Linked DNA regions of Homo sapiens: region 1 is linked to region 2. The links come from fine-mapping of genetic effects on gene expression. A gene starts in region 2. The other region holds a variant in brackets. All regions are shown on one strand. Distances are from middle to middle.

Region 1 (14,934 bases), 45 kb after region 2:
CACAGAGTTATCACAGTGCCATAGCCACACAGGAAGGGATATATGTCCAGGGACGTGGTCCAGGTTAGAACACACAGGCTCACAACCACACAGAGGCAGGGAGAGGCACTTATTTGCCGTTCGGGGAAATTGTCACACCCATGGGTGTACTCTCAGGTCCACAGCTATACACAGGCCCACTTGATATCAGACACAGCTGGGACATCCTTTATCCCATCCTTTTATTTCCATTTCTGGGAAGAGCTGTGATGCTCCAGAGAGGAGCCCCTGCCCCCATCGGTGTGAAGGAGGCACTGTCTGAACTGAGTTCTAAAGGACAAGGGAGAGTTAGCCAGCCACAAGAAGGCAAAGAGCCTTCCTGGACCAGTGTGTACTAAGGCCTAGAAGCCAGGGTGTGCCCAGCCCAATTTGAGAAACTCCAGTGCAATTTAGTGTGGTTGGTGCTGCAGTTTATATGAATGAGGTTGGGGAAGGAGTGGGGGCATGTACCCCAAGTTTTACAGTGAAGAGCTGGAACTTGAACCATGGGCAGTGAGGAGGTAAGGAGTGGTTTTGAGCTGGGGAAGGAGAGAGTCACATTTAGTGAGGTTTCTGGGGCTGATGCAAAGGTGAGACTGGAGGTGGGGTGGCCAAGAAGGAAGCTGATGGTCCCAGAAAATCAAGTAATATGACATCTCAACACCCCGATGCAAAGATATGCATCCATTTAGCCTCGCACTTTAGATCTGCTCTTTCCCTGCCTGGGTCACTTTGAACAGTCTCTCCTGCATTGCTTGCCAACCCCACTGGTAAAAGGGTGGTGTTTGCTTGTCCAGGGAAAAGAGTTTTAGTTTTGCAGAACCAACAATATCAGGAGCATGTGGAGCAGCCACTCTTCCGGTGCAGTCACTTCAGACAGGACACAACCCTGCAAAGACTAGCCAGATGGGGCGGTGTCAGAAGAGAGGTGGGGAGTGTTCTCAATGGAGAATTAGCCCTTCCTGCTTGTGGCTCAGGATCAGCTAGGGCAAGTGTGAAGAAAGCATGTGGAATAATACAAATGCAGCATTGTGCCAAAGCCCCCTGCCCCCATCCTGGGACGGAGGAGTGGGGTCCTACAGGGAGCATCACGGGGGCTGCTGGCAGACAGTGGCTAACCACACCTCCTTTCTTCTCTCCTCAGGTCACACCCCAAGGGGGCGCGGGGACCTTACCGTTGTCCCAAGCTTCCAGCAGTCTGAGCACAACAGGTCAGGGAGGGCAGAAAATGGTGAGGGGGGACTGGGAGGATGTGGCACAGGCTGGAGCCTGAGGTTCCCAAGTGGCTCTGGGTGTCCATGGGCCTCAAGACTGGGCCTGGGGAGTGTGGGTGGGGGAATGGGAGAGACAGTGGGAAGAGGGTAGGACTCACCCCTCCTCTGCAGGAGCAACTCAGCTTTAATCTGCTTCACGATTTCATATGAGAAAAGCATGGGCCTGGTAAAAGGTGAGGCACTTGAGTTTTGTGCCTGGCCTCTGTCATTTTTAAGCTGTGTGAATTCAAGCACTTATTTTATCCTTCTAAGCCTCAGTTTTTATTAAATTATTATGAATGTGTAAAACATAAAAAGATATAAATACATGTATGTAAGAGTGTATGTGTATGTACATATACACACATACATGCATACATACATAGTCTTGTATCCAGAGTTCCCCTCCCTCTTCCTGGGACACGGTAGGTTTATATGTATGGTTATACACCATATATATAATAATAATATAAAATTCGCTGGGTGTGGTGGCTTATGCCTATAATCCCTGCTCTTTGGGAGGCCAAGGCATGTGGATCACCTGAGGTCAGGAGTTCGAGACCAGCCTGGCCAACATGGTAAGCCCTGTCTCTACTAAAAATACAAAAATTAGCTGGGCGTGGTGGCGTGTGTCTGTAATCCCAGCTACTCGGGAGGCTGAGGCAGGAGAATCACTTGAATCCGGGAGGAGGAGGTTGCAGTGAACTGAGATCACACCACTGCACTCTAGCCTGGTGACAGAGTGAGATTCCATCTCAAAAAAAAAAAAAAAAAAAATATATATATATATATATATATACACACACACATAATATATATATGCATAATATATATACACATAATATATATACACATAAAACAACACGTTGCCCCTCCCCAGGCTAGAAAATAGTAAGTGGAGATTTATAAAGTAGTAAGTGCTTGCCTGGCACTGTACTAAACTCTTTCTAAACTGCATTGACTGACTTAATTCTCAAACTCATTTTATGAGATAGGGTCTATTATTATCCCCATTTTCCAGACAAGGGATCTGAAGGTCAGAGAGGTTAAGGCACTCACCCAAGGGCACCACTGGGATGAGACAGAGCCAGGAGTTTCTACCCCAGCAGTCTGGCTGAGTCTGGGCCCTCAGCCCCTGCCAGGTTGCCCATCCCTCAGATGTGGCAGTGTGCCTGGCACCCTTCGCCCCTCCCCAGCCCCTAGAGGGAGCCATAGGGCTTTGTCTCCTGGGCACCCCCGTTTCTAGTCGGTAAAAAAGTGGTTCAGGGCAGGGAGTGTAGAGTGCCAGGGCTCAGCAGGAAGCACCTGCTCTGACTTCCATTGTTATGACAGGGGTCACCATGGCAGAGGCACAGGGAAATGACTCTGGGAAGAGAGGGCAGGGAGGTCTAAGGCTGTTCTGACTGAGGAGATGCTGCGTGAGCTGGGCGGGAGGACAAGTAGGAGCTGACCCCAGGTTCCTCAGTGGGGGACGAGTGGAAGCTGAAGACCCCATCTTTCTGTCTCTCTCTGGCAGTTACTACCTTATCCTCAGCTGTGGGGACGCTCCACCCCAGCCGGACAGCTGGAGGGGGTGGGGGCGGGGGCGGGGCTGCGCCCCCCCTCAATTCCATCCCCTCTGTCACTCCCCCACCCCCGGCCACCACCAACAGCACAAACCCCAGCCCTCAAGGCAGCCACTCGGCTATCGGCTTGTCAGGCCTGAACCCCAGCACGGGGTAAGTGGGTGCACGTGGGAAGCTGTGGGGAGAAGCAGGGTCGCTGCTGCTTCTAGGGTGGGGAGCGGCACCCCAGTTATGTTGGCAGGTCCCTGCCCCTGCTAATGCCTCTGCTTTGCCTCTTGCAGAAGCACAATGGTGGGGTTGAGCTCCGGGCTGAGTCCAGCCCTCATGAGCAACAACCCTTTGGCCACTATCCAAGGTGCGTGCTGCCTCATGTCACACCCATCGTCACCAGCCCTATCCTCTGGGGCCTCGAGCCCTGCCATTGCTGCTCCAGCCATGCCATCCTGCCCCTGCTCACTGCATTGCTTGCCTCTTCATACCCATCTCACCTTTGGGGAAGGTGTGAGGGGTGCTGATGGGGGTCAGTGGGACCGATGGGGAGATGGGGGGCACTCTGGGCAGGATGCTGGAAGGCAAAGGTCTCCCCTGGCCCGGCATGCCCTTAGCCCAGCCTCTCTCTCTCCCCGCCAGCCCTGGCCTCTGGTGGAACCCTGCCCCTTACCAGCCTTGATGGCAGCGGGAATCTGGTGCTGGGGGCAGCCGGTGCAGCCCCGGGGAGCCCTGGCCTGGTGACCTCGCCGCTCTTCTTGAATCATGCTGGGCTGCCCCTGCTCAGCACCCCGCCTGGTGTGGGCCTGGTCTCAGCAGCGGCTGCGGCTGTGGCAGCCTCCATCTCCAGCAAGTCTCCTGGCCTCTCCTCCTCATCCTCTTCATCCTCATCCTCCTCCTCCTCCACTTGCAGCGAGACGGCAGCACAGACCCCTGGAGGTCCAGGGGGGCCCGAGGCAGGGTCCAAACCTGAGTGAGGGCCAGCCATGCCTCCCCTCCCATTCCTCTGGTCCCTGCCTTGGTCCCTTGCCTGGGAAGAGGGCGAGGAGGCCAGTGGTGGGGACGCAGAGGGTCCTCAGAGCAGGAGTGACAAGGGAGGAAAGACCAAAAAAACAACCAACCAAAAAAAAAAAAAAAAAGGAAAGAAACTAACCAACAAAAGAGAAAACCAAAAATAATCACAACAGAAACCAGCTGCCCCAAAGGAACCAGAGGTGAAAAACAAACAAAAAAAAACCAAAAACAAACCAAAAAAAAAAAAAACCCACAAAATCAAACAAACCAAAAAACCAGTCGCGAGCCAGACCTCAGCGTGCTCACCCTCACTGCTACGACGCCAAATAAAAACCCCAGCCAGGGGCGGAGAAGCCTCCAGCAGGTCAGACCTCATGCCACCGAGCCCTGGCTGTGGGACCAACCCCCAACCCTGCCTCCCCCGTGGGGGCTACAGAAGGAAAAAGAGAAGATGCCAGCTTCCTAATCCCAGCCCCCAGCCCTGGGCCAGCGAAGACAGGGCACAGCCTGGGCAGATGGGCTGGGGCTTAGCACCACCCACCAAATGTTCTTTTCCAGAAGGTGAAAGAGAAAGGGCCTGAACAACCTTACACCAAATATTCAGTAGCTTCATCCAAAGGATGTACAGAATTTTTAGCATTGTGCTCAACAGAATGTGTCCCTACCATGTGTCCCCTTCTCCCCTGGCCCCCAGCTCTCCCCACCTGGGCAGGGGGTCTTGCTTTAACCTCCTCCCTCCCCCCAGCAGGGGAGAGTTCAAGGGAAGGCCTGCGGACAACTTTTCATCCCCTGTTCCTCCCTCTTTTCCCCTTTGAAGGGTGGGCTAGGCCATTTTGCCAAGTTCTAGCTCTCACAAGTCCCTCCTCAACCCTGTCACCCTCCTCTGCTCTGGAACTGACTCCCTCCCCAGCCTATGGGAAGGTGGAAATTTCAGGCAAGAGGGGATGAAGACATTCAGTTGAGGGCATTCAGTTGTCTTTTTCCATCCTGTCTGTTTCCCTGAAAAAAAAAAAAATTCATATTCCAGTGCCTATCCGTGGGATCCTTCACGTTCTTTGACATTAACCAGAAACCAAAAAGAGAACTCACCTCGCTTTTCCCACCCTGTGCCCCTCTGGTACTGGCGAATGCCTCTCCCTCCCCCCACATGCACGCACGCACACACCCCAGTGGTGGGGTTCCTCGAGATGGCATCCCCATCAGGGTCCATGTGGTGGGGACAGTGCCACAGCCTGTGGTCCCCATCTGAGAGGGCGCGGTGGTGGCCACCACTCCCACAAGACCTCCACAACTCTTGGCTGGACCCTGTGTTTGACCAGCCCCGGACACGTCTCCACTGACGACGGACAGAGGAGAGACACCACTGGGAGCCACCCTGCCCTCCTGCTATTGTGGAGGCCAACAAAGTTTTGAACCGAAAACCAAAAAAACAGAAACAAACAAACAATAAATTTAAACTAGAAAAAAAATTTATATATATATATAAACATATATATATATATATATATAAAAGGGAAAGAAGATGAGGACTCTTCAAGAATAAGATGGAACCGCGAGGCGGAGCCAAGCCCCTGCACCGGTGGTCCAGGCCCTTGTTCCCCAAGGCGGATGGAAGGACGGATGCTTCTTTCTCTTCACAAATACCTCATGGACGTTGTCTTTGGGAAAGCCGGAGGGGGCGGCTGGGGCAGGGCCTGTCCCTCGGCCAGGGCAGATGGAAGCGGGTGGGCGGGGCTGAGAGAGGGTATCAGGGACAGGGGTGAAGAGCCCCAAACTCCCCTCCCAAATCAACTGAAAAAGCTTTAAAAAAAGACAGGAAAAAAAGGAGTAAGAAAGCAAAAAGAACAGATGAAGGAAAACTTAACAACTTTTGGGTGGTTTGATTCCTCCTTTGATTTCTTTTTCGGTTCTCTTTTGTCTGACCTCTCTCCTCCCCTCCTTCCTCTCTCCTCCCCTCCTTCCTCTCTCCTCTCCTCCTTCCTGTCTCCTCTCTCTCCCTTTGCTCTCCTCTCTTCTCTCTCAATCTTGTTCTTTCTGTGTCTCTCCTCAAACCAAAGTGTTGCAGTGAAGGACACGAGCCATTGAAATCAGGGTGGGGCCTGACAGCCGTAGTGTGGCCCCTGCCCCTTGTTGGGCAGGAGCAGAGAGAGAGGAGAGCCCTGAGACCGCAGGGCTTTGGCCTGGGCAGCTTCCACTTTCTGCCGGACACTCTGAGGAGAGGCAGATGGAGCTCCAGGCCTCAGCGTTCTCTTTTTTCCTTGTCTCCCTTCTCCCACCCGGGAAATGAAACTGTTGGGCTGGGCGACGGAGGCAGCAGAGACTCGGCCATTGCAGGGGCCTCTGGGTGCCTTGTCCGGGCAGTGGTGAAGTAGCCGCCCCTCCCACCCCGGCACGATGGGGCCTGGCACCTCGTCTACCCAACCTCACCGGAATGTAAGCATCTCCGCTGAACGACTCCCTGCCCTTACCCTACCTCTGAGTTTGTCCATGTTTATTTCCTGAAGAGAGAAGGGACTGGCAAGAGGGCTTGGGCCCCAGCCCAAGGGTGGAGAGGGGGCCAAGGGCTCCTGACCAAATAGGAAGGACATTTGAGCAGAGCAAAATGAAAGGAATTACAACCAAAAACCCCCTCCGAGAAGACAGGCAGCATGGAAGGCATGGTGGAGATGACTCAAACAAAAACTATGATTCTAGACCAAAAAGGAAAAAAAAAAAAAAAAAAGGAAAGAAAATCCAGGACTCACCACCACCCACTTCATCCTGCTTCCTCCCCATCAAGTCCCACCACCTGGGACCTCTCCCCACCCCAGTATGTGGGAGTGGGGTAAAGAGGAGAGGAGGAGCAGGGGGCAGGGATGGGGCAGATGCCCTGATGTTGGTGGAGGGACCCCTGTGCAGCCGGGGGTGCTGGGGACCCTCCCCATCCAACCCTCACACCTAGGAAAAGAAAAACAAGAAAAAAAAATTCCTGGGAGGGGGAAAAATAACCAAATCCCAAGCTTTAACTACAGCTGTGAAACCAAATATTGGGAAGGGGGTAGGAGGGAGGGAGGGGCAGGTGAGCCCCAGGTCTCCCCCTGGGCCCCCCTCCCCTGAGGACTCGAGATAAGGCACCAAATACCTCATAGAACTTTAATGTTAAAAAAAGGAAACCAAATATCGTTGGCTGGGGGCCAGCCAGGGCAAGGGGCTGGGGGGCTGGAGGGAGCCAGGGTTGGGAAGGTGATGGGGGAATTCATGCCCCCCACCCCCATCTGCCCCTTACACTCTGGTCCCCCGTCTCGACTCCGGGAAACAAAACTATCTCATCGTTTTTATTTTGTGGTCTGTACAGAGCCTGTGTCCGTGTGTCTGTGTATGAGCGAGAGAGTTGGAGGGCTGGGGAGCTTTATGTGGGGGATGGGGAGGGCAACCCCAGGCTAGGCTATGGGCTAGGTTAGATGTCCGAGGTTGGGGGCCAAGGGCCTGGGCTAGAAAGAGAGGAGAGATGAGTGGGTTGGAGCAGTGGGGAGCCCTCTGAATTTCTCTTCTCCCCAACCCTGACCTCCTACTTAAGGGAGGGACAGAGACTGGGTCTACCCTAATGGTGGGCCTTTTCATTGTGCCAAAAAAAAAAAAAAAAAAATTGATGCCAGTAACTAAACCACCTCTCTCTGTTCTCTTCTGGGGGGTGGGGTGGGTGTGTGTGTGGGGGTGGGTAGGGATGGGGAACCCAAGCCCCAGTAGGAGTTGGGGCTGAGATCAGGAGGAGGGGAAGGATATGAGTTTTCCATCCATCTCCCTGGAGAAGGCCATGACGGGCTCTCCAAGCCCTGGGGAGATCTGGCGAGGGACTAGCCAAGTCAGGGTGACCTCTTGACCTGACTAGTTTTTCTAACCCACATGAA[C/T]ACCAGGGTGCCTCTCTCTTCCTCTAGCCCAGGGTAGGGGGACCTGAGTGAGAGAGAGAGTGAGACAGACAGCAAGATTGAGACACGCGGGCCCCCACTGGTCTCTGAGTGGGAAAGGCAAGTGCGAGAGATAAAGGCCTCCAAGAGAAAAAAGAAACAAACCAAAGATTTAACCATTTAAAAAAAAAAAAAAACCCACAGACAACTCCGCTACCTTTTTATATGTTGGAAAAAAAGTGAAAAAAAATTAAAAATAAAAATAAAAAAAAATACACAAAAACTCCAAGCCGCAAGTCCTTCATGCGGTTTAAACTTTGACCTCAGCAGTCTCCAAAGCAAGACGACGATGACAAAGGCGGAAACAAAGAAAAAATAATGTATATTTTTAAGTATTTGTCCTTGAATTGTTAGCTCCTTGTTAAACAAACAAAAGGAGAGAAAAATCCAGAGAGAAGTGTTGCTGGGATGGAGACAACTATTTACTATGTCTGTGACCCCTCCCTTCTGCCTCCCTCCCCTTCCTCTCTTTCCTGTCCTCTATCCTTGCTGCCCCTCCCCCAATATGTCCCCCAAACCCAGGGGCTCAGTATTTATTTATTTATATAATTGCAGGGTGACTGGGGGCCTCTCTCGGCAACTCGTAGAGAGCCTTTGGATAATGGCAGGGTGGGGAATGGGCGAGGAGTCTTTGGGAAGAGCAGGGGCCTGAACTTTCAACTCCTTTCTGGCCTCTTGTCCCACTGCTTCCACCATCACCTTCCAAATCCAGGGCTGCACTAGGGCAAGGTGACCACCCTACTTGGTAAAGACCTGATTGGCGCAGCCCATTCTGGTGTGGGTGTCTTTCACCACCCAGAATGACCAGGTTGGAATGGGGGTGGGTGAAGTTGGAGGGGGTGGCAAGTACAAGGCAAGGGTGCCCAGGAACCGGCATCCAGAAATCAGCCCTGGAGTAGACCTGCCTTTCCTCCATCCTTACCAAGTTAGCCTCCCTTTCAGTTCCGTCTGACCCCTGTGTTGGTAGCCCCTTCCTTCCCTTCCTGTACCCCCTCCGTCTCTTCTCGTGGTAGCGGGTTAGTGTTTCAGTGTTCTTAACTCCAATCTGCTTGTTCATTGTACAATGTGCTTCTTTTAAGGCCCCATTTTTGTAACTTGAGTGTGTCATTCATCTGAACAACAAACATCAAAAAATAAAAAATTAAAAACTGTACAGAGAGAAATGATGCCTACTCTCCCTTGGTCTCCTCTCTGTCCTGGGAAGAGTGGTGAAGAAATCAGGGTGTGGGGTTGGAGATCTGTATGCTGGGGAGGGGAGGGTTTTACTTCTGTTCCAATAGTGAATGTTCACAGTCTGGGCAACATAGAACTCTTCTCTAAAAAAGCCCCAAAAACTCAACTCGGCATGGTGGCATGTGCCTGTTGTCTAGTCCTAGCTACTTGGGAGACTGAGGTGGAAGGATTGCTTGAGCCCGGGATGTCAAGGCCGCAGTGAACCGTAATCGTGCCACTGCACTCCAGTCTGGGTAACAGAGAGAGACCTTGTCTAAAAAACAAAAAAAACAAAAACAAAAAAAATTAAATTTTAAAAAATAGTGAATGTTTGGAAGTAAAACCTGCACAAATGTTCTTGCCAAAGAACCAAGTCTTTGAATTTAGGATGAATTCATACTTCTGAATTCAAATCTCAGTTCTGCCATTTTATAAATATATGACCTTCAATATGTGAGCTTCTGTGTCCTCATCTGTAAATAAGGGACAATACCTACCTCACAAGGTTGTAGGATGATGGTCTAAGTAAAGTGCTTAGGACTGAGCTCCAGCACACTGTCTTCAATATATGAGAACTATGAGAAAGCCAGGAAACCAGCAAATACCTCTCCATTTCCATCCCTGGATGCTTCCCCAGAGGACTAAAGAGACTCTTTAAAACCAGAGTTTCAATTAACACATTAAAAAGTTTCAACCTCACAAATAGTCAAATAAATTAACAGAAGAGTTATATGTCATTTTTTCACATCACCAAAAAAATGCAAAAAAAAAAAAAAAAAACACCCAAAAACAAACAAAAATGCCGGGAGCGGTGGCTCATGCCTGTAATCCCAACACTTTGGGAGGCCGAGGCGGGCGGATCACCTGAGGTCAGGAGTTCAAGATCAACCTGGCCAACATGACGAAACCCCGTCTCTACTAAAAATACAAAAATTAGCCGGACGTGGTGGCGCACGCCTGTAACCCAGCTACTCGGGAGGCTGAGGCTGGAGAATAGCTTGAATCCGGGAGGTGGAAGCTGTAGTGAGCTGAGGTCGTGTCACTGCACTCCAGACCAGGCGACAGAGCGAGACTCCATCTCAAAAAAAAAAAAAAAAAAGTCCGGGTGCAGTGGCTCAGGCCTGTAATCCCAGCACTTTGGGAGGCCGAGGCGGGTGGATTACGAGGTCAGGAGATCAAGACCATCCTGGCTAACACGGTGAAACCCCGTCTCTACCAAAAATACAAAAAATTAGCTGGGCATGGTGGCAGGCGCCTGTGGTCCCAGCTACTCAGGAGGCTGAGGCAGGAGAATGGCATGAACCCAGAGTCAGAGCTTGCAGTGAGCTGAGAATGTGCCACTGCACTCCAGCCTGGGCGACAGAGCGAGACTCCGTCTCAAAAACAAACAAACAAAAAAAACAGGCTATGTGTGGTGGCTCATGCCTGTAACCCTAGAATTTAGGAGGCCAAGGCAGGAAGAACCCTTGAGCCCAGGAGCTCGACACCAGCCTGGGCAACACAGTGAGACCCCATCTCTACAAAAATTGAACAAAATTGGGCCAGGTATGGTGGCTCACGCCTGGAATCCCAGCACTTTGGGAGGCCAAGGCAGGTGGATCATTATAATGGTCAGGACTTCGAGACCAGCCTGGCCAGTATGGTGAAACCGTCTGTACTAAAAATACAAAAATTAGCTGGGCGTGGTGGTGTACGCCTGTAGTCCCAGCTACTTGGGAGGCTGCGGCAGAAGAATCACTTGAACCTGGGAGGTGGAGGTTGCAGTGAGCCAAGATTGTGCCACTGCACTCCAGCCTGGGTGACAGAGCAAGACTCCATCTCAGGAAAAAAAAAAGCTGTTGCGTTTCCTCAGCACTGTTCCATCCTCTAATGTATGCTTGGCACACAGGTGCTGGGATCCTGCAAAGTCGATAGTGAGGGTTGGGGGAACTGAGGCACAGGAAAAAGGAATAGAGTGAAAGACAGGTTTCATATTTAGTAAGACAAAAAGTGTCAGCATTGCAGTGTTTTGGCAAGACAAAGAAAGCAAAGCCCCTCAACTCTCAAAACAAATCAACAGGGATGGGACATAAAAATAGTACATGGAGGAAGATCATTTGGTTCAGGCCCATCTTCAAGGTGGCACAGTCAGAACCAAACAGAACCCAAGACGCCATCTCTACAAAATAAAGTAGCCAGACGTGGTGGTGCTCGCCTGTCGTTCCAGCTACTTGGGAGGCTGAGGCAGGAGGATCACAGGATCACTTGAGCCTAGGAGGTTGAGGCTGCAGTGAGCTGTGATTGTGCAACTGCATTCCAGCCTGGGTGACAGAGCGAGACTCTGAAAAATAGAAAAAAACAGGCCAGGTGTGGTGCCTCATGCCTCTCATCCCAGCACTTTGGGAGGCCAAAATGGGATGATCCCTAGAGGCCAGGAGTTTGAGACCAGCCTGGCCAACACAGCAAGACCCCATTTTTAATAAAAAGATAAAAATAAAACCTAACACAGGAACAGAAAACCAAACACCACATGTTCTCACTCTTAAGTGGAAGCCGAACAATGAGAACATGTGGACACAGGGAGGGGAGCATCACACACCAGGACCTGTCAGAGGGTGAGGGGCTAGGGAGGGATAGCATTAGGAGAAATACCTAATGCAGATGACAGGTTGATGGGTACAGCAAACTACCATGGCATGTGTATACCTATGTAACAAACCTGCATGTTCTGCACATGTGCCCTAGAACTTAATTAAAAAGAATACTCCAAATCCTAGGATTTGGAACTATATATATGTATATAAACATTAAAATGTATGTTTGTATGTCTATAGAGTAAAACAAACTATAAAAAAATCTTTATATACATATATATTATTTACTGTATCTATTGTGTAATTTATATACATATAACAGGTAGGATACACACATACACACACACGCACATAACCTGATTTTTTTTTTGTATAAACAGAACCCTAATACATTAACTTTTCAAATGTTATGTCATTTATTTTACAAGAACAATTATTAGAATTTGTTTTAGGCCAGACGCGGTGGCTCATGCCTGTAATCCCAGCACTTTGGGAGGCTGAGGCAGGTAGATCACCTGAGGTCAGGAGTTCAAGACCAGCCCGACCAACATGGTGAAACCCTGTCTCTACTAAAAATACAAAAAACTAGCCTGGCATGGTGGTGCGCAGCTCTAATCCCAGCTACCTGGGAGGGTGAGGCAGAATTGCTTGAACCCAGGAGGCGGAGGTTGCAGTGAGCCGAGATCGTGCCATTGCACTCCAGCCTGGGTGATACAGTGAGACCCTGTCTTAAAAAAGGAGTTCTTTCAGGCCGGGCACAGTGGCTCATGCCTATAATTCCAGCACTTTGGGAGGCTGAGGTGGGCAGATCACCTGAGGTCAGGAGTTTGAGACCAGCCTGGCCAACATGGTGAAACCCCGTCTCTACTGAAAATACAAAAACGTAGCCGGGTGTGGTGGCACGCGCCTATAATCCCAGCTACTCGGGAGGCTGAGGCAGGAGAAACGCTTGAACCTGGGAGGTGGAGGCTGCAGTGAGCCGAGATCACACCACTGCACTCCAGCCTGGGCGGCAAAGACTCCAACTCAAAAATAAAAAGGAAAAAGAGTTCAACAGAAAGATCTGGAATAATCTTTGGGGGGGGGGGTCTCAGAAGCAAGGCTAGCACAGCAGCCTAGCATCCCACCAGTCACATACTCCCATCTTGTCTCTACCACCCTCCCCAAAGTATGCAGAAGGCAACAGAGTAGAGAGAAAAGCATATCGGTGATTAAACCAAATGAAATGAAATCAGGCTTAAATTCAAGCTCTGCCCTGCCTGGATTGAATGTGACCTTGGGCAAGTCATCTCAATGCTTTTGACTGGAGATTCCTTCCCTGCAAAATGTTCTCACGTAATCAGTGTGAATATTATTCAGTTATATAGTACTTGAGACTGACTAGATGTTCAAACATTAGCCAGCCATCCCAACAATCCATCACTCACAATAAAAATCTGTTGGCTGAGCCAAAGTCCAACTCCAGGGGAATTCAAGTCACCACCTCTCATGAATCTTCCTACATCCAGACACATATTATTCAGAATCTCCTTTAATTCCACAGCTCTAGAGATCATGCCTACCTGCATTTGCTCTTGGGGATCAATGAGAAAATCAGATGGCCTTGGGAGACAAGGTCCACATCAGGCCAGGAGTCAGGGACAGGAGTGTAAAAATCTGATTTCTCTGAAAGTTCCTGCCACCAGTACAAACACTCTTGAGCTTTTCCACAGAGCCATGGGACCTCTAGTGGCAAGAGAGCCATGCTACCTCCATCTAGCAGTGAAGTGAAGGCCCTGCTATGAGAGCCATGCCCATGAACACCAGGTCATTCTCTTCAGCCCAGCAAATGTTTACTGAGCTCCTACTACCCCTAATACCTGCCAGGCCCACTTCTGGGTGTTGGTGATGCAGCCACGAGAGGTAAGACCCATGACTCCCAAATTCCACTCTACACACTGCTGGCAACTCAGTCTTTATTGATGGTTTCATTTTTGGGGTCACCAGTGCTAAGAGGTGGAAGGTGGGGGGGCACCTTTATGTGTGTCAAGGACCCCAGAGCACCCCCCTCACGAGAGAATAAATCCAATTTAGAACTTACAAGGTGGTGGGGATGGGAAGAGGAAGGGACACAGTATGTACAGATGCTTAAGGGGATGCTGGAGGGCCTTCAGCAACAGGGAATGGAGGTGCCAAAGAGGAAGTCGGGCAGAGTCAGCCACTGATCTGGACCCCCTCAGCCTCGGCCAGAGGGTAGATCTCAATGGCTTCCACCAGGGGTAGCGCCTCCACAGCAGTCTCCATGACGGCCAGGCCAACGGCAGCCTCCGCCTCTGCCAGCTGCTGCCGCACAGCTGCCTGATGCTGCTGCTGATGGGTCTTGCGGTGCTTCCAGAGGTTGGAGAAGGAGCGGTAGCTCTTGCCACAGTCAGGGCAGGAGTAGGGTCGTTCGCCTGTGTGGATGCGGCGATGTTCTGCCAGGCGCATGGAGATGGCAAAGGCCTTGCCACACACTTCACAGGCAAAGGGCCGCTCACCTGTGTGCAGGCGCCGGTGGTCTTTCAGGTGGGTACTCTGACGGAACGCTTTGCCACAGTCTGGACATGGGTATGGCCGCTCACCTGTGTGGATGCGCCGGTGCACCTGCAGTGACGTCTCTGTGCTGAACAGCTTCTTGCACTCGCTGCACTCTAGACCCCGGCGGCGGGCAGGGGCCGCAGGGGATGCTGTAGCAGTGCTTCCAAGGGCTGCTGGAGAGGCAACTGGTGCACGAGTGGCCCGTGGGGCTCGAGGGGCAGGGGGCTCCTTAGCCAGGACCTCTCCAGGCCCAGCAGCTGCATGGGCCGCCTCGTGTGCCTGCAGTCGAGCAGCTGAGCCCACTTTCTTGCCACAGGTGCCACACTCAAAGCGCCGTGGGGCCTGGGCAGCAGCGGCTGCACAGCGGTGCTCCCGGAGCCGCAGTGAGGAGGGGAAGGCAGCCCCACAGGATGGGCAGCGGTGGGGCTGGCGCCCGGCATGGACCACGAGCTGGTGCACCTCCAGCAGCCGACGCAGCAAGAAGGAGCGGGGGCACTCGCGACACTTGTAGGGGTATTCACCTGTGTGATGGTAGCGGTGCATGAGCAGGCGGTAAGGACGGTGAAAACGCACCCCACATTCCTGGCAGCGGTAGGGGAAGTGCTGGGCATGCACCAAGCGGTGCTGCCTCAGTGTGGAGCTTTGCGTGAAAGCCTTGCCACAGTCCCCACACCGGTAGGGCCGCTCTCCTGTGTGTGTGAGCCGGTGGCGGGCCAGGTTGGCAGGTGAGTTGAAGGGCTTGGAGCAGTCAGGGCAGGGGAAGGGCCGCTCCCCTGTGTGTGTGCGCAGGTGGTTACGCACGTGAGACTTC
Region 2 (14,934 bases):
CAAGCTACAGAATGTTAGAGCTGGGGCCGGGCCACAGTGGCTCATGCCTGTAATTCCAGCACTTTGGGAGGCTGAGGTGGGTGGATCACTTGAGGGCAGGAGTTTGAGATCAGCCTGGCCAACATGGTGAAACCCTATTTCTACTAAAAATACAAAAATTAGCTGGGCATGGTGGCGCATGGTTGTAGCCCCAGCTACTCAGGAGACTGAGGCAAGAGAATCACTTGAACCCAGGAGGTGGAGGTTGCAGTGAGCCAAATAAAGTAAAATAAAATAAAAGAATGTTCAAGCTGGAAGAAGTCTTAGAGTGCTTCTCCAGCCCATCTCAGACATATATCTGGGGAAACTGAGGTCCAGGGAGTTCAGGGGGCTGGCCCTAGGTCACTAGAGGGCGAATTTCAGAACAGGGACTGGTTGGTCTTCTTTTATTTGTTGGTTTGTTTTTCAGAGACAGTCTCGCTCTGTCACCCAGGCTGAAGTAGAGTGGTGTGATCTCAGCTCACTGCAACCTCCGCCTCCTGGGTTCAAGCGATTTTCCTGCCTCAGTTTCTCAAGTAGCTGGGACTACAGGCGTGCGCCACCATGCCCAGCTAATTTTTGTATTTTTCAGTAGAGATGGGGTTTTATTGTATGTTGGCCAGGCTGGTCTTGAACTCCTGACCTCAGGTGATCCGCCCTCGTCGACCTTGCAAAGTGCTGGGATTACAGGTGTGAGCCACCACACCCGGCCAGTTAGTCTTCTTTTATCTTCTTTGAGCCACATCACAGTGCTTCTTTTCTTACATGAGGCGAACTGGGAATTCTGGTGGATGTGGAAAATTGGCTGTGGTGGGGAGATATGATGAGGAATGTTTGTATCCATGTGAATTTGTTAAGCATCTGCTGACTTCTGGTCCACAGACCTTGCTTCTTGGAAGATGCTGCTTCCTGACTTTCCCCCTGGAACTGACCCAAGTGTCTTCCCCCTGCTTCCCTTCTCACTGTGTCTTTCAGTGATGGCCTCGCATCCACCCAGCCACCCCAGCCCAGCACCCACTTCTCATATCCTGTTCCTGTAGACTCCAGCTTGAATATGTATCCTCATCCTAATCCTCATGGCTCCTTTCTCCCCTGCCGCCTTGGACCACTGTCCCAGCCTCCCCATTGGTCATCCTGTCTCCAGATTCCATGCTACCAGCCGGTCCCCACATTTGTCCCCAGTAGAACTTCCTTACACAGAATGCTTCTGCGCAGAAGCCTTCCACCTGCAACTTCAAATCCAACCTCAAAGGAACTTGAGGACAAACTTGGGAAAGCCAAGTTTGTCTCCACCTTGGGGTCTTCAACCTTGGCAACCCCCTTGAATGCTGTTTCCCACCTCCTGCCCTTCCTTTCATCCTTCAGGACCTCAGGTCCTACCCTGATCTTTCTTACCTGAGCTTAAGCTCTTCCACCTGCCCCAATCTTCTGTGCCAGGAAAGATACTTTAACATACCTGGACCTCATTCTTGACTTCTCCGTGACTCCCATGCCCCACATTCAGCCAATCACCAATTATTGCTTCCTGTCATCATCACCTGATGGTGATGTGGAATTCATCAGCTTCCTCACGCTGACCCCCACACTCCATCCTCTGGTTCTTCACTGCGGCCTCCAAAGCAGCCAGGATTGTCACAAAAGTGTTCATAGAACCATGCCACTCCCCTGCTTGAAACCTTCTCAGGTGTCCCACTGTTCTTGAAGTCCCAAATTCTTACCTTGGCCTGCAAGGCCCTGTGCGATCTGGCCCTGGCCGCCTCTCCACCTCACACCTCGTCTCCTATCTTCTCTTCTTTGTTCACTCTGCTCCAGCTCTATAGGCCTCCTTTCTGATCCTGGAATTGCCACACTGTTTGTTTCCATGGGGCCATCGCCTCCTCTGTTCCCATTGCCTGGAGTGTCTTCCTTCACATTCTTTGCCTCGAGAATACTGTGTCTAATTGCTATGTAAATGTCACTTCCTTGGGACAGTTTTCTGCAACATGCCATCCTTTGTTTACATCAGGTATCCTCCTTCTACTTTTTTTAAGAGTCAGGGTCTCTCTCTGTCACCCAGGCTGGAGTGCAGTGGCATGATCGTAGCTCACTGCAGCCTCGACCTCAAGCAATCTTCCCGCCTCAGCCTCTCGAGTAGCTGGGACTACAGACGCACACCACCACACCCAGCTAAGTTAAAACAATTTTTTTTGTAGAGATGGGGTCTCGATATGTTGTCCAGACAGGTCTCAAACTCCTGGTGTCAAGCAACTCTCCCACCTCAGCCTCTCAAAGCGCCAGGATTACAGGTGTGAGCCACCATGCCCAGCCCCTCCTCTACCTATTCTTGAAATCACTTTTCCTAACTTAGAATTACATATTTATTTGATGGCTTTTTATTTTTTATTTTATTTATTTATTTATTTATTTTAGAGATTGAGTCTTGCTCTGTCACTCAGGCTGGAGAGCAGTGGTGCCATCATAGCTCATTGCAGCCTTGAACTCCTGGGCTCAAGTGATCCTCCTGCTTTACCCTCCAGAGGAGCCAGGACTACAGGGGTATGCCACCATGCCCTGCTAGTTGATAACTTTTAAAAATTATTTCTCCCCCAAAGACTATAAGCTCTATGGGTTGCTTTTAACCACTGTATTCTCTGAGCTTAGCAATGGCTTGGCACATAATAGCATTTATTGGATATTTATTAAGTGATAAATTACCAAGGTATTTTTATCCACTCCAGTCTTCCTCTCAGACTGTTAGCTCCTTGAGGTCAGATTTTAGATCTAGCTCACCTCTGGGTCCTCAGCTCCCAGCACAGGGCTTGGCACTGAGGGACATGAGGAAATGTTTGAATTGAAGGAAATGGGGAAGGGTTGGCCCACCTTCAGCCAGGAGCTGATGGGATCAGGAGTCCAGTGCATTGCCGAATATCAAGAAACTGACTCGAAGGCTGTGGGCGTTGGACTGTGAGCTGCAGAGGTATTCCAGCATTGCTGACTGGACAAGGAGTGGCTGGCTGTTGCTGTTGTCTCCTGAAGGATGGGGAGCATTTCACGCCTCCAAGAAGGAGCTCCATGGCTCAGTACAGAGAGATCAAGCTGTCAGGGGGACAGACCTGGGCTTAAATCCTGACTCCACCACTCATGCTGTGTGACTTGGGGCAGGAGACTTCACCTTTCTGAGGCTCAATTTGTTAGTAAAATGAGGATGATAGCAGACCTTTACCTCCTCAGACTGTCATGAGGACTTAGAAATAATATATTGGTTCAAATAGCACAGAGTAGTCCAGGCACAGTGGCTCACGACTGTAATCTCAGCACTTTGGGAGGCTGAGGCGGGTGGATGGCTTTGAGCCTAGGAGTTCTGAGACCAGCCTGGGCAACATGGCAAAACCCATGTCTCTACTAAAAATACAAAACTAGCTGGATGTGGTGGTGCACGCCTGTGGTCCCAGCTATCTGGGAGGCTGAGGTGGGAGGATGGCATGAGCCTGGGAGGCAGAGTTTGCAGTGAGCCAAGATCATGCCACTGCACTCCAGCCTGAGTGACAGAGCCAGACAGTCTCAAAAAAAAAAAAAAAAAAGGAAAGCATAGACCACAATGCTGTGGGGGCTGCTGCTGCTAATGAAGACAAAGAGGAAGATATATTTTAAGTCCCTGAATGCTGGATACTCCTAAGCAGAACTTGACTTTGACTTAGGGCTGCTGGAGAAGCAAAGGGGCACTTCGGGTCTAGAGGGCAAAGCAGGTGTGTAAACAGGAAATAGGCTTGAGGTCATGTCTGTAATCCCAGCACTTTGGGAGGCTGAGGTGTGTGGATCACATGATCTCAGGAGTTCGAGACCAGTTTGGCCAATGTGGTGAAACCCTGTCTCTCCTAAAAACACAAAAATTAGCCTGGCCTGGTGGTGTGCACCTGTAATCCCGGCTACTCGGGAGGCTGAGGAGGCGTGAGATGCGCTTGAACCCAGGAGGCGGAGGTTGCAGTGAGCCGGGATTGTGCCATTGCACTCCAGCCTGAGCGACAGAGTGAGACTCTGTCTCAAAGGAAAAAAAAAAAAAAAGAGCCTGGACTTTAAAAATAAAGCTAAAGCTTAATTTAATTTTTTTTAAAAGGGGAAATAGGCTTGAGCCTAGAAGCCAGGAAAGTGGGCAAGAGTGGCAAGCAGTGTCTCGGGTGGGCCAGAGCTGAGGCTGGGCATGGTTTGAGGGTCTCTGAGGCCCACTGGGGGACCACATGGCCCTGCAGCAGGAGCAGACACACATCTCTTTGTGTATGTGTTTGTCTGCCACCCCTATCATCCTGTTTTCCTGCCACCCCTATCATCCTGTTTTCCTGCTTGTTTGGGTCCCTAGGTTAGCTTTCCCTAACCCCCCAGAGGCTGCCCCTGGCCTGGGCGCTGCTGAAGCCCCGTGTGCTTAGATGCAGCAAGGGGACTGGGCAGAGGGAGGTGGGTATCATTGAGTCTTGGGCCCAAGTTCATCTCCTGGCCCAGCCATGGACTCAGAGTATGGCCTGAGGCTTGGTCTCCCTGTCTCCTGCCAAGCTAGGGGTCTGAGGAGCCTCTCTGAGCTCCCACATGCCACAGCCCTACAGATGAGGGCAGTGCCTATGGGGAAAGAACCCTTGGGTTCCCTCACAGAGCAAGGATGATGCTGGGGGCTGAGTAGAGAGATCACCAAAGCAGCAGACATTCAGAGAGAGGCTGGGGAACTGAGCCACAGAGAGGGTCCCCAGGGGTGGCCAAGAGGAAGAGGCCATGGCTGGGGGGCCCTGAGGGGTGAAGAATCTCGCTCTGCTGTCCCCGGTGGGCTGGCTGCTCCCCCCCACCACTCCCCGCCGGGCCCCCGGGGGACCTCGCTCTAATAATGTATTTGATCGACTCGCCGGCCGCGTACAAGCGATTATTGTCTTGTCGGGAGTCAAACGTATCGATCCGGCGAGAAATATGAGCGGAGCAATGGGGCCCGCGTGTCAGTTACCAGCCCCGCTGGCCCTGGGGAGCCCCCTACGTCTCCTTTAATTACCGCTCAGCCCTGAGCCCAGCCTGGCCTCCCCTGTACCGCCTCCCTCCCAGCTCCCTGCACCTCAAGTGGCCCCCACTGCTCCCTAGCTCCCATGCCCTACCTGCCTCCCTCAGCATGGCTCGAGGCCTCTTCTGTGGCAACGAGGCCACCATCTCCCCCTGCCTTGAGCCTCCCTGTTCCAGCTGCCAGTGTGTTCCAAACTCTGCCCCTCTATCCTCTCTCAGGCAGGCCCATCCTCCTTCAAGATCCCCTCACCAGGCCCAGCTCTGGTCTGAGGCACTGAGAATGGAGCCAGCATGGGAGGCGAGAGGTGTGGGGTTGTTTCATCTCTCAGGGAGCGTATACAGCCTTCCCCGGCTCCAGGACTGAACTGCAGACCTGGCCGCACTGGAAGTGGGTGGTCCTTCTCTGCTGGCTCTAGGGGGCTGGAATGGGGTCACATCCAAAAGCGTGTTCCTGACGTGGATGATGTTGAGTCTGTCCAGGGTGGAGCATAAGGGTGGCTGGTGAGGTTTTGCCCCCCCCCATAATGTCCTATAGCCCCATTTCCAAGCCCCCCAAAACAAATCCTAACTGAAAACAAAGCTTACTGCGTAAATGTCGCTTTGAGACAAGGCTCCAGTGTCCACTGCTACCAGGCTGCTGTCGGGAAGACCCTCATGTATAGAAATCCTGTGGCCAGTTGCTGTGTGGTCTGTGGATCTCCTCTGTGAAATGGCCTTTACGATACGGGATGTTGTGGAGTGTAGATGCCGGGAAACGGTCACCTCTCGTGTGCATATATGAGAACTGCCAGTCCTTCCTGTTGTGCCCACCTGCTTGCCTGGGTGTGTCTGGGTGCACAGGGCACGTGTGCAGTCAGGGGAGGGCACTCCTGTAGTTGTGCCTGTAGTATACCCTTTCTGAGTGTGCCTGTGTGTGAGTGGGTGCGAGTGGCCAGGAAGTATGCTTGGGCACATATGTGTAGAAGTGCCCTTGTGCCCATGGGTCCATGTGAGGGAGTAGAGGAGGTATCAGTATATGGGAGTGACCATCGTCAGCAGGGAGGGCTGGTGTTGGGGCCTGTGCACATAGATGTGTTCATGCACGTGTGTGTGCACACGTGTGTGTGTGTGAAGTGCTGGGGTTCATCTGTAGAAATACTTGTGTGTGTGAGGGTGAGTCCAGGCGTCTGTGCATGCACCTGTGGTTTAGGGGGCCCCCCAGCCACGGGGCGCAGGATGTCCTGCGGGGCCCAGGCGGGCATGTGGGGTGTCTGGAGACGCCAGGCAGCCCCACAGCCTCAGACCTCGGGCACCAAGAGGAAGAGGGCAGCGGACTCGGGCGCGCCTTTGTCTGAGCTGCGGTGCGCCGGGAGTCCTGCGCCTTTGTGTGACCCTCGCAGGTGTGCGAGCGGAGGTGTTGGGAGGGTGTTGGGGAGGGGAGCGGAGGGAGGGGCTCCCTTCTCCGCAGCCGGCCCCGCCCTCCGGCCCATTGGCTGGGCGCTGCCGCCCTCTGGCGGGCACGGAGGGAAGCGCTGAAATGGGAGCGCCGCAGCGCGAAGAGCCAGCCGGCAGCCCGGGGACCTGGTGCTCCCCTCCACTGGAGCCGCCTCGGGCGCCCGCATTTGGCCGGCGACTTATTGTAGCCCCAGGCCAAGTCCCCGACCCACCGTCCCCACTACCACTGCCCACGGGCACCACTTCCTCCCAATGGTGGCACCCAACAGCTCACCTGCAGATAGGCGCAGGGCTTGCTTGATCTTCCCTGCCGCGGCGTGCTTTTAAGCTTCAACGCTTCTTGGCTCTGGGCCTTTGGGAAAGCTACTGCTCACCTCTCTGATCCTCAGTCTTTTCATCTGTAAAATGGGGCAAATAAGAGTGACCACCACATTGGAGATGGCACCTGTCAAGAGTGAGGCACAGGGTCAGGCATCGGCAAAGCCCTCTCTCCAATAAGCTGCTGGCTAGTGTTTTATTGTTGTTACTGCTGTGGACCCACCTTCTCTCCCAGACCCCCATTCCCTGTTCCAGACTTGTTTGCCTCCATGGGGGCGACAGAAGTCGGGGGGCAACTGTTGCAGGCACCTCTTGGATCGCAGCCGTAGGAGTCGGCTCTTCCAGCCTGCTTATCCTCTGCCCCACTAGCCCCCACCCCCCAGCACACACACATGATTTGGGGTGGGCCGGGCTGCCGGGGCGGGTCTGTGGGCCAGGGTATTTTCCCTTCTGAAGGGGGCGGACCGGCCCTGTGGTTTCCTCCCTGAGTGACTTCCGGCAGGGAGGGCTCGGCCCCCAGAGAGGGTGGGGAGATGACACAGTTGTTCCCCCAGCCCTGGCGGGGCGGGCAGCATGGTTCACTCCAGCATGGGGGCTCCAGGTAAGGGGGCTGGTGCCTGTGCCACTGCTCAGAGGACAGGCAGCACATTTAGGTTTGCTCTGCGGGCCCTGCCTGCCCCTCCTCCTCAGCTGTCTCCATTGTCCTTCTCCTCTGTACTCTAGCAACTCCCTCTCTCCCATGCCGGGTCCCCGCTAACCCCCACAGCTCCTCTTTGCCCTCTCTTTCCACATCAGGCACCGGAACTTCCAACATCTTCTCTTCTCTGTTGCCCTGTTCCGAAGGGTCTGGGGACGGGAGGGAGGGAGCTGGGTGTTGGTAGCGGGCCCTCATGTGGAGAACCAGTGGGGTGGGTGACATGGGCAATCCTTGGATAAGGGCTGCAAAGGGATTGGAATGCCAAGTTGCTGGACTTGGGGGATGTCATTCCCTTTTGAGTGTGTGTGTGCACATCTGGTACAGGTGTGCGTGTGCATGTGTGTGTGCAGTAGTTCTGAGTGCTCTGAGTGGGACTGCTGTGTGCTTGTGAGTGTAGGGGGCTGTTGTGTGTGGCATTGTGGGGTGATGATTGCCTGGCTCCCTTCTTCACTTCATTCACCTCAGATGTCACCTCCTCAGGGCAGCCTTCCCTGACCTCCCCATCTAAACTGGCACTGATCCTGTCACTCTCAGTCCCCTCACCCTGCTTTATCTTTTCTTCACGGCACGTATCACTGCTGGGAATTTCATTATGTGTTTGTTTGTGTGCTTATTAAATGCCTTCTCCACCAAATGTCAGTTGGCTGAGTGAACATTGTGCACCAGGCACTGTACAAGGTGATTTATAGCTGTTGGCTCATTTAGTAGAATGTGTATATGTCTGTATGGTGATGGCTATCACTCAGCAGTGTTGATGGGAGTCTTAAATGAGGTAATACATGTAGCATGCTTAGCACAGTGCCTGGAACATGGCAAGCACTCAGCCCTTCATGCCTGTTTCATTTGTGGCTGTGTAGGCATGACCATGGGCATGAGTCTTGGTTTGGTGGTGTGTGCTGTCCTATATGCGCCATTGTGTGCGGGCACCCGTGTGTCCTCCACCAACATGTATCTATTGAGTAGTTCTGTGTTGGGTGTTGGAAGTACAGTGGAAAGGGTAGCTCAGGTCTGTCCTCCTGGAGCTCCCAGTTTATTGGAGAAGACAGACCTGTCACCAATGACAGTACAGACAGGTCAGGGCTGGGATGGGGGAGGTCCAGGCAGAGGGATCAGGGCTGGGATGGGGGAGGCCCAGGCAGAGGGGTCAGGGCTGGGATGGGGGAGGCCCAGGCAGAAGGGTCAGGGCTGGGGTGGTGGGCACAGGCAGAGGTGTCGGGGTGGGATGGGGGGACAAAGGTAGAGGGGTTGGGGCTGGGATGAGGGAGGCCCCAAGCAGAGGGGTCAGGGCTGGGGTTGGGGAGGCTCAGGCAGAGGGGTCAGGGCTGGGATGGGGGGACATAGGTAGAGGGGTTGGGGCTGGGATGGGGGAGGCCCAGGCAGAGGGGTCAGGGCTGGGATAGGGGGACATAGGTAGAGGGGTTGGGCCAGGACGGGGAGGTATTAGGGGATCGTAGGAGCCCTGAAAACATGTGATTTAGTTGGTAGAGTGTCAAGGAGGGCTTCCTGGAGGAAGGGGGTGTCTGAGCAGGGATATGAAGAATGAGTGGGTATGAGCAAGCAAAGGCGGTGAGGAGAGGGGTGGGATGAAAGGAAGACTATTTGCAGGGTGACATGTTTATTTGTTGAGGTGACTGTGTATGCAACTGTGTATATGTGTGTGTGTCCATACAGTGTAGACACAGAGATCCAGGGTGTCTGCTCCCACTGACTCGTTCCTCTCTGGGGTTAAATGGGGACCTCAGAGGTGCTGGGCAGTAGGCTAAACCCTTTACTTGGGATTTCTCACAGAACAGCCCAGTGTGGGAAGACTGGGGTGAATTTTCCCTGCCTGGACATGAATTAATACACTGTGTGGCTGTGGGCAGATCACTCACCCTGCCTGGTCTCAGACTCCACACCTGTGAACTGGGTTCAGAGGTCAGCCCTGGCCATCTTCCAGGATAAGGTGACTCTGGGTGTATGTGTGTGCACTTGTGTTTGTGTGTGTGACTCTGTGTGAGCATGTGCATGTCTGGGTGTGTATCTCTGGCTGGACTGATGTGACTTGGTGTGAGAACATGTGTAAGTACATGTGTGCGTACACATGTCTGAGTCTGTGAGTGACTGGGTGTAGTATGTAGGGGGAGGGTGTATGTCTGTGTTCGACTCCGGGTGTGTGAGTTTGTATACTTTTTACGTGTGTCTGGCTGGCTGTGTGTCACTCAGTGTGAGAGTGTGTGTGAGTGCATGTGTGTACGCACGTTTGGGTGTGTGTTTTGCATATATGCCCGTGGCATCATGTCTGGGCATGTGTCGTATCTGCAAACCTGTTCACATTCCTGTCTGGAATCTGTGCACATCTGTTTCTTGTATTGTGTTGGCCGGGGCCTTGCCTGGCTGTGGCCATGGGGTGTGTACTGTTGGCAGCTCTTGCCTGCTGTCAGCGCAGCTGTGGGGCCACCTCTCTTGTTGTGTCTGCTGCCTGTATCTCCATCCCTCCCTCCTGACAACTCAGAAATGTTCACTCCCTTGAGGCCACCCAGGGACAGCTGTGGGGTGGGGAGGGGTGAGGTGCTGCTTCTGGGGAGGACGGGGGCTCGGCCAGCTGGGCCCACAGAGGTTCCCGGCAGCACCAACCTGCCCACAGGGGCTCCCAGGCCATACCCCTAATTGAAGCAGGCTGCGGAGGCAGGGGACCCAGGGGACAGGACAAGTGGGGCCAGGAGGGGTGAGGGGCAGTCCTTGGGCCCTCTATATTTAGCCCCGTTTTCGGTAAGTGCTAACGAGAAGCTGGCCTAAGTCTGCTAAAACTGGCGGGGGGAAATGCAGAGGAGAAGTGAAAGTCCGGGGAGGGAGGAGTGGGAGGGTGGAGAGGACCAAGAGTCCCAGGCCTGGGGCAGTCGGGCAAGTGAGTGTGAGCTCAGGGCTGGGCAGCCCTGGTTGAGGGGTGTCTGACCTGAGGAAGGTGGGATTCAAGGGGCAACATGGCTCCAAGGGGCCTGGTAGGGCTATGCATTGCTTTTTCTCTTTCAGTTCCCCTAAAATATTACACATTACCTATGATGAGGGGTGGGAATAGCCATACATAACCAACCAATCTTTTGTGTGTGAATGAGGCTTTGAGAGGGGCTTCTGAAGGTGCCAGGGGATGGAGCACATTAGAATCACCAGGAGGGGGCTGGGTGCGGTGGCTCATGCCTGTAATCCCAGCACTTTGGAATGCTGAGGTGGGCGGATCACTTGAGGTCAGGAGTTCGAGACCAGCCTGCCCAACATGGTGAAACCCCGTCTCTAATAAAAATACAAAAATTAGCCGGGCATGGTGATGCATGCCTGTAATTGCAGCTACTCGGGAGGCTGAGGCAGGAGAATCGCTTGAACCCAGGAGGCAAAGGTTGCAGTGAGCTGAGATCATACCATTGCACTCCAGCCTGGGCGACAGAGTGAGACTCTGTCTAAAAAAAAAAAAAGAGAATCACCTGGAGGGGCTTTTAAATATCTGGATGCCCAAGTCACACCCTGTACCACTGAAATCAGAGTCTAGGGTGGGAACAGGCATCAATATTTTTCTAGAGTTGAGTGATAGGCGATGGGCATCTCTGCCTGGGCTCAGGCTGAGGCTGAGGCCGAGCCATTTGATGGACCCTCCAAGTCTATGATTGCTAGTGCCCTGGAGTCCCTGTTAAGGCGTCATTTGGCTTTTAGTCCACGGTGGAAATGGAGCTCCCTGTTCATTCCTGGTGGAAATGATCTGACCCTTCTCTCAGATTGAGCTCTGACAGGGGAGGTGGAAAGAGAAAAGACAAAGGGCAGCAGTTGGCCATTTTGTTGTGACCCAGCCAAGTGTGGGGCAGGGAGTATGCAGGGATATGTAGGAGTGGTTGGGATAATTTAGGGAGAATAAGGGTAACAGAATGGTGAAAAATTTCCCTCAAACCACTCTTGTCTTTCCAGCCACAGTCTCTGCAGAGGAAATCATACCTTAAAGATTTAAGTTAGGGTTTCTTGGGGATGTTGGGTGACAGTAGAGATAGGGGTTTGTTTTAGACAGGATTGGGCCCTGGTCAGTTAGGGGATTCTTTAATGCATTCATTCATTCCAAAGACGTACTCCTAGGCCTGTGCAGCAATGACTCCAGCCTGGGCTCCTGAGGAGCCCACAGTTGGGGTGGAGGTCTCTGCCCAGGATGATCAGGATGTGGTGGAGCACAGTACAGGGTCAGTGAAGCCCAGAAGAGAGAGACACTGACCATCTGGGGAATCAGAGAGTACTTCACAGAGGAGGTGACATTTGAGCTGGACCTTAAAGAGGAGCAAGAGTTTGCCAGTAGAGAAGGAAAGGGTCACCCAAGTGGGAGACGAGCAGAGGCAAAGGCCTGGGGGAGGGAGATCAGGACCTTGGGGCCACTGATCCACATGTCTTCTGCTGGGGAGTGTTTAGGAACCTGAGATCAGATCTGCCCTTGAAAAATTCCTAGTCTGATAGGGGAGACATAGTGGGGCCCGGCTAGCTACAGTCAGCCTCTAAGACAGTGACAAGGGAAGGTGCTAGGGTATGGGGAGCTGGAGAGAGACCTGGCTGGGAGCTGGGGGCATCAAGGTGGTGGTTTCATAGAAAACAGAGCTTATGGCCGGGCGTGGTGGCTCACGCCTGTAATCCCAGCATTTTGGGAGGCTGAGGTGGGCAGATCATGAGGTCAGGAGATTGAGACCATCCTGGCTAACACAGTGAAACCCCTTCTCTACTAAATATACAAAAATTAGCCAGTCGTAGTGGCGCGCACATGTAATCCCAGCTATTTGGGAGCCTGAGGCAGGGAATTGCTTCAACCCAGGAGACCTCTGGAGCTTGCAGTGAGCCGAGATCCCACCACTGCACTCCAGCCTGGACAACACAGCAAGACTCCATCTCAAAAAAAAAGAAAAGAAAACAGAGCTTATGCTGGGTTCTGAAGGATGAGTCCGGGGGTCGCCAGGTGGACAGATTGGGGAACAGTGTTCCAGACAGAGGGAACAGCCCATGCCAAGGCCTCAGGAAATGTTTTAAATGGCAAAGTGCAGGCATGGTGGCTCATGGCTGTAATCCCAGAACTTTGGGAGGCCAAGGCATGAGGATCATTTGAGCCCACGAGTCTGAGACCAGCCTGGACAACATAAGGAGACCCGTCTCTACAAAAAAAAAAAATTTTTTTTTTAATTAGCTGGATGTGGTGGTGCACAGCTGTAGTCCCTGGATGTGGTGGTGCACACCTGTAGTCCCAGCTACTCAGGAGGCTGGGATGGGAGGATAGCTTGACCCCAGGAGGTCGAGGCTGCAGTGAGCCGTGATTGTGCCACTGCATTCCAGCCTGGCCGACAGAGCAAGACTCTTGTCTCAAAATATAAATTAAATAAAATAAATAGCAGGGAGACAGTAAGACAAGGGTGAGAAGTAGTAGGAAACAGAGACTGCTAAAGAGAGGGACATTCAGCAGTTACAACCCGTTCTGGGCTTGTGATGCTGGGGACCCAGTGATGAGTCAGACCAGGCCTGTCGCATTGGTCTTGTGGGGAAGGAACCTGGACACAGACAGCCACAACTGGGGGCTCAGGGATGGGACAGCAGGAGGGCAGGGGCTGTGAGAGGCTTAGTTTGCTAGGGCTTCCACATCAAAGTACCACAGACTAGGTGGCTGAAATAAGAGAAATTCATTTTCACAATTACGGAGGCTGTAAGTTAAAGACGAGGATGTCAGCAGGGTTGGTCTCTTCCAAGGCCTCTCTCCTTGGCTTGTGGTCCACTGGTCTTCTCCTGGGTCTTCATATGGTCTTCCCTCTGTTCCCATCTGTGACCTAATTCCCTCTTTTTCTTCTTTTTTTTTTTTTTTGAGATGGAGTCTTGCTCTGTCACTCAGGCTGTAGTGCAGTGGCACGATCTCGGCTGCCTGCAACCTCTGCCTCCTGGGTTCAGGTGATTCTCCTACCTCAGCCTCCTGAGTAGCTGGGATTACAGGCACACACTACCATGCCCGGCTAATTTTTGTATTTTTAGTAGGGGTAGGATTTCACATTGTTGGTTAGGCTGGCCTCAAACTCCTGAACTGGTGATCTGCCCACCTCGGCCTCCCAAAGTGCTGGGATTACAGGCATGAGCCACCGCGCCCGCCCCCTCTTCTTATAAGGATGCCAGTCAGATTGTAGTAAGGTCCACCCTAATGACCTTATTTTACCTTAATTACGTCTTTAAAGACCCTATCTCCAAATACAATTACATTTTGAGGTATCAGGAATTAGGACTTCCGTGTATGAATTTTGGTAGATGCAACTTAGCCCATAGCAGAGGTTAAGGATGAGTGTGGACTTTCTGGGCTGGCAGTGGGGTCCGAGGCTGCCCTGTTCTGTGGACGGGAGAGGGATGCCCAGCTAGGTGGGAGTGTAGAACCTGCACAGCCTGCTGTCAAGCAGACCCCCAAGCAGGGGGAGATGCTCGACATGGGTGAAGAGCACTGTGCATGAGCTGCAAGAGAAGAGCAGTACAGGGTGGTGGGCCAGCCCCTGGAGGCCAGGTTGTTTATTTCTCCAGGAGATAGGGAGGAGCCAGGAAAGGATTGCCCTGAGGCAATGTGGAGCTCCGCTGGAGGGACGGAGGCCAGAGGAGGCTGGGGCTGCAGTTTTAGGGATGCTAGGAGGGGTGGGATTTAGGACCGGGTTAGAGTTAGTGGCTGCCTGAAGTAGGGCTAAGGTCTGGGTGAACTAGAGCTAGGATCAGGCAGGATTCCCGCCTTTACTGCTCCAAAGTCAGGACACACTTGCTGCCCAGCTCCCTTCTTGTCCTTCTTATATCTTGTATCAGTAGCCATTTAATGCCCTGTCCCCAGGGCCAGGAAACAGGACCTGAACTCTGGTAGCGTCCTGGGCACCCACTCCCCACCCCCACCCTCAACAGTCTACATCTTTTTTTTTTTTTTTGAGACAGAGTCTTGCTCTATTATCCAAGCTGGAGTGCAGTGGTACAATCACGGCTCACTGTAGCCTCAATCTCCTGGGCTCGAGCGACCTTCCCATCTCAGCCTACTGAGTAGCTGGGACTGTAGGTGCCCACCACCATCATGTCCGGTTAACTTTTTTATTTTTTGGAGAGACGGGGATTTCACTATGTTGCCCAGGCTGGTCTCAAACTCCTAGCCTCAAGTGATCTACCTGCCTTGGTGCAGTGTGCATCTTAATGGGACTGTGTGCTGGCGTTTTGCTTTTTAGCTTTTAAATGTTTTCTTGCTTGTTAAAACATAACGTATATAGAGTAAAGTGCTCAAATTTTAAGTGTATAGCTTGATGAATTTTTGCTTATGTAAGGACCCTGTAACCACCAAACAAGATCCTTTCTTACCTGGTGCAGGCTTCCTCATGCCCTTTCCCAGTCAGTACCCCCAAGGTGCTCACTCATCTGACTGTGATCATCTGCTATCAGCTTGCCCGTTTTTGAATTTCCTGTAATTGGAA

Evidence for each region.
Region 1: its variant is fine-mapped to the expression of POU2F2 in testis (GTEx, PIP 0.91).

What each region holds. Positions count from the first base shown.
Region 1 is chr19:42,080,124-42,095,057 of GRCh38, reverse strand. It overlaps POU2F2 (POU class 2 homeobox 2), which reads left to right. Exons shown (of 15, transcript NM_001394376.1): 12 at 1,163-1,229; 13 at 2,788-2,989; 14 at 3,118-3,191; 15 at 3,467-8,948. The coding sequence ends at 3,801. ZNF574 (zinc finger protein 574) reads right to left here. Exons shown (of 2, transcript NM_022752.6): 2 at 13,506-14,934. The coding sequence ends at 13,761. Among named protein-coding and RNA genes, the nearest start is that of ZNF574, 11 kb to the right of the region's middle. The variant C/T (reference allele first, on the strand shown) is at 7,726.
Region 2 is chr19:42,124,831-42,139,764 of GRCh38, reverse strand. It overlaps POU2F2 (POU class 2 homeobox 2), which reads left to right and starts at 7,319. Exons shown (of 15, transcript NM_001394376.1): 1 at 7,319-7,381. The coding sequence starts at 7,354. LNROP (long non-coding regulator of POU2F2) reads right to left here and starts at 7,136. Exons shown (of 3, transcript NR_038332.1): 1 at 7,004-7,136; 2 at 6,737-6,860; 3 at 2,666-3,093. It overlaps MIR4323 (microRNA 4323), which reads left to right and starts at 6,252; the gene lies at 6,252-6,320. RefSeq lists enhancers at 1-28, 6,048-6,097, 9,768-9,877 and a silencer at 6,378-6,637.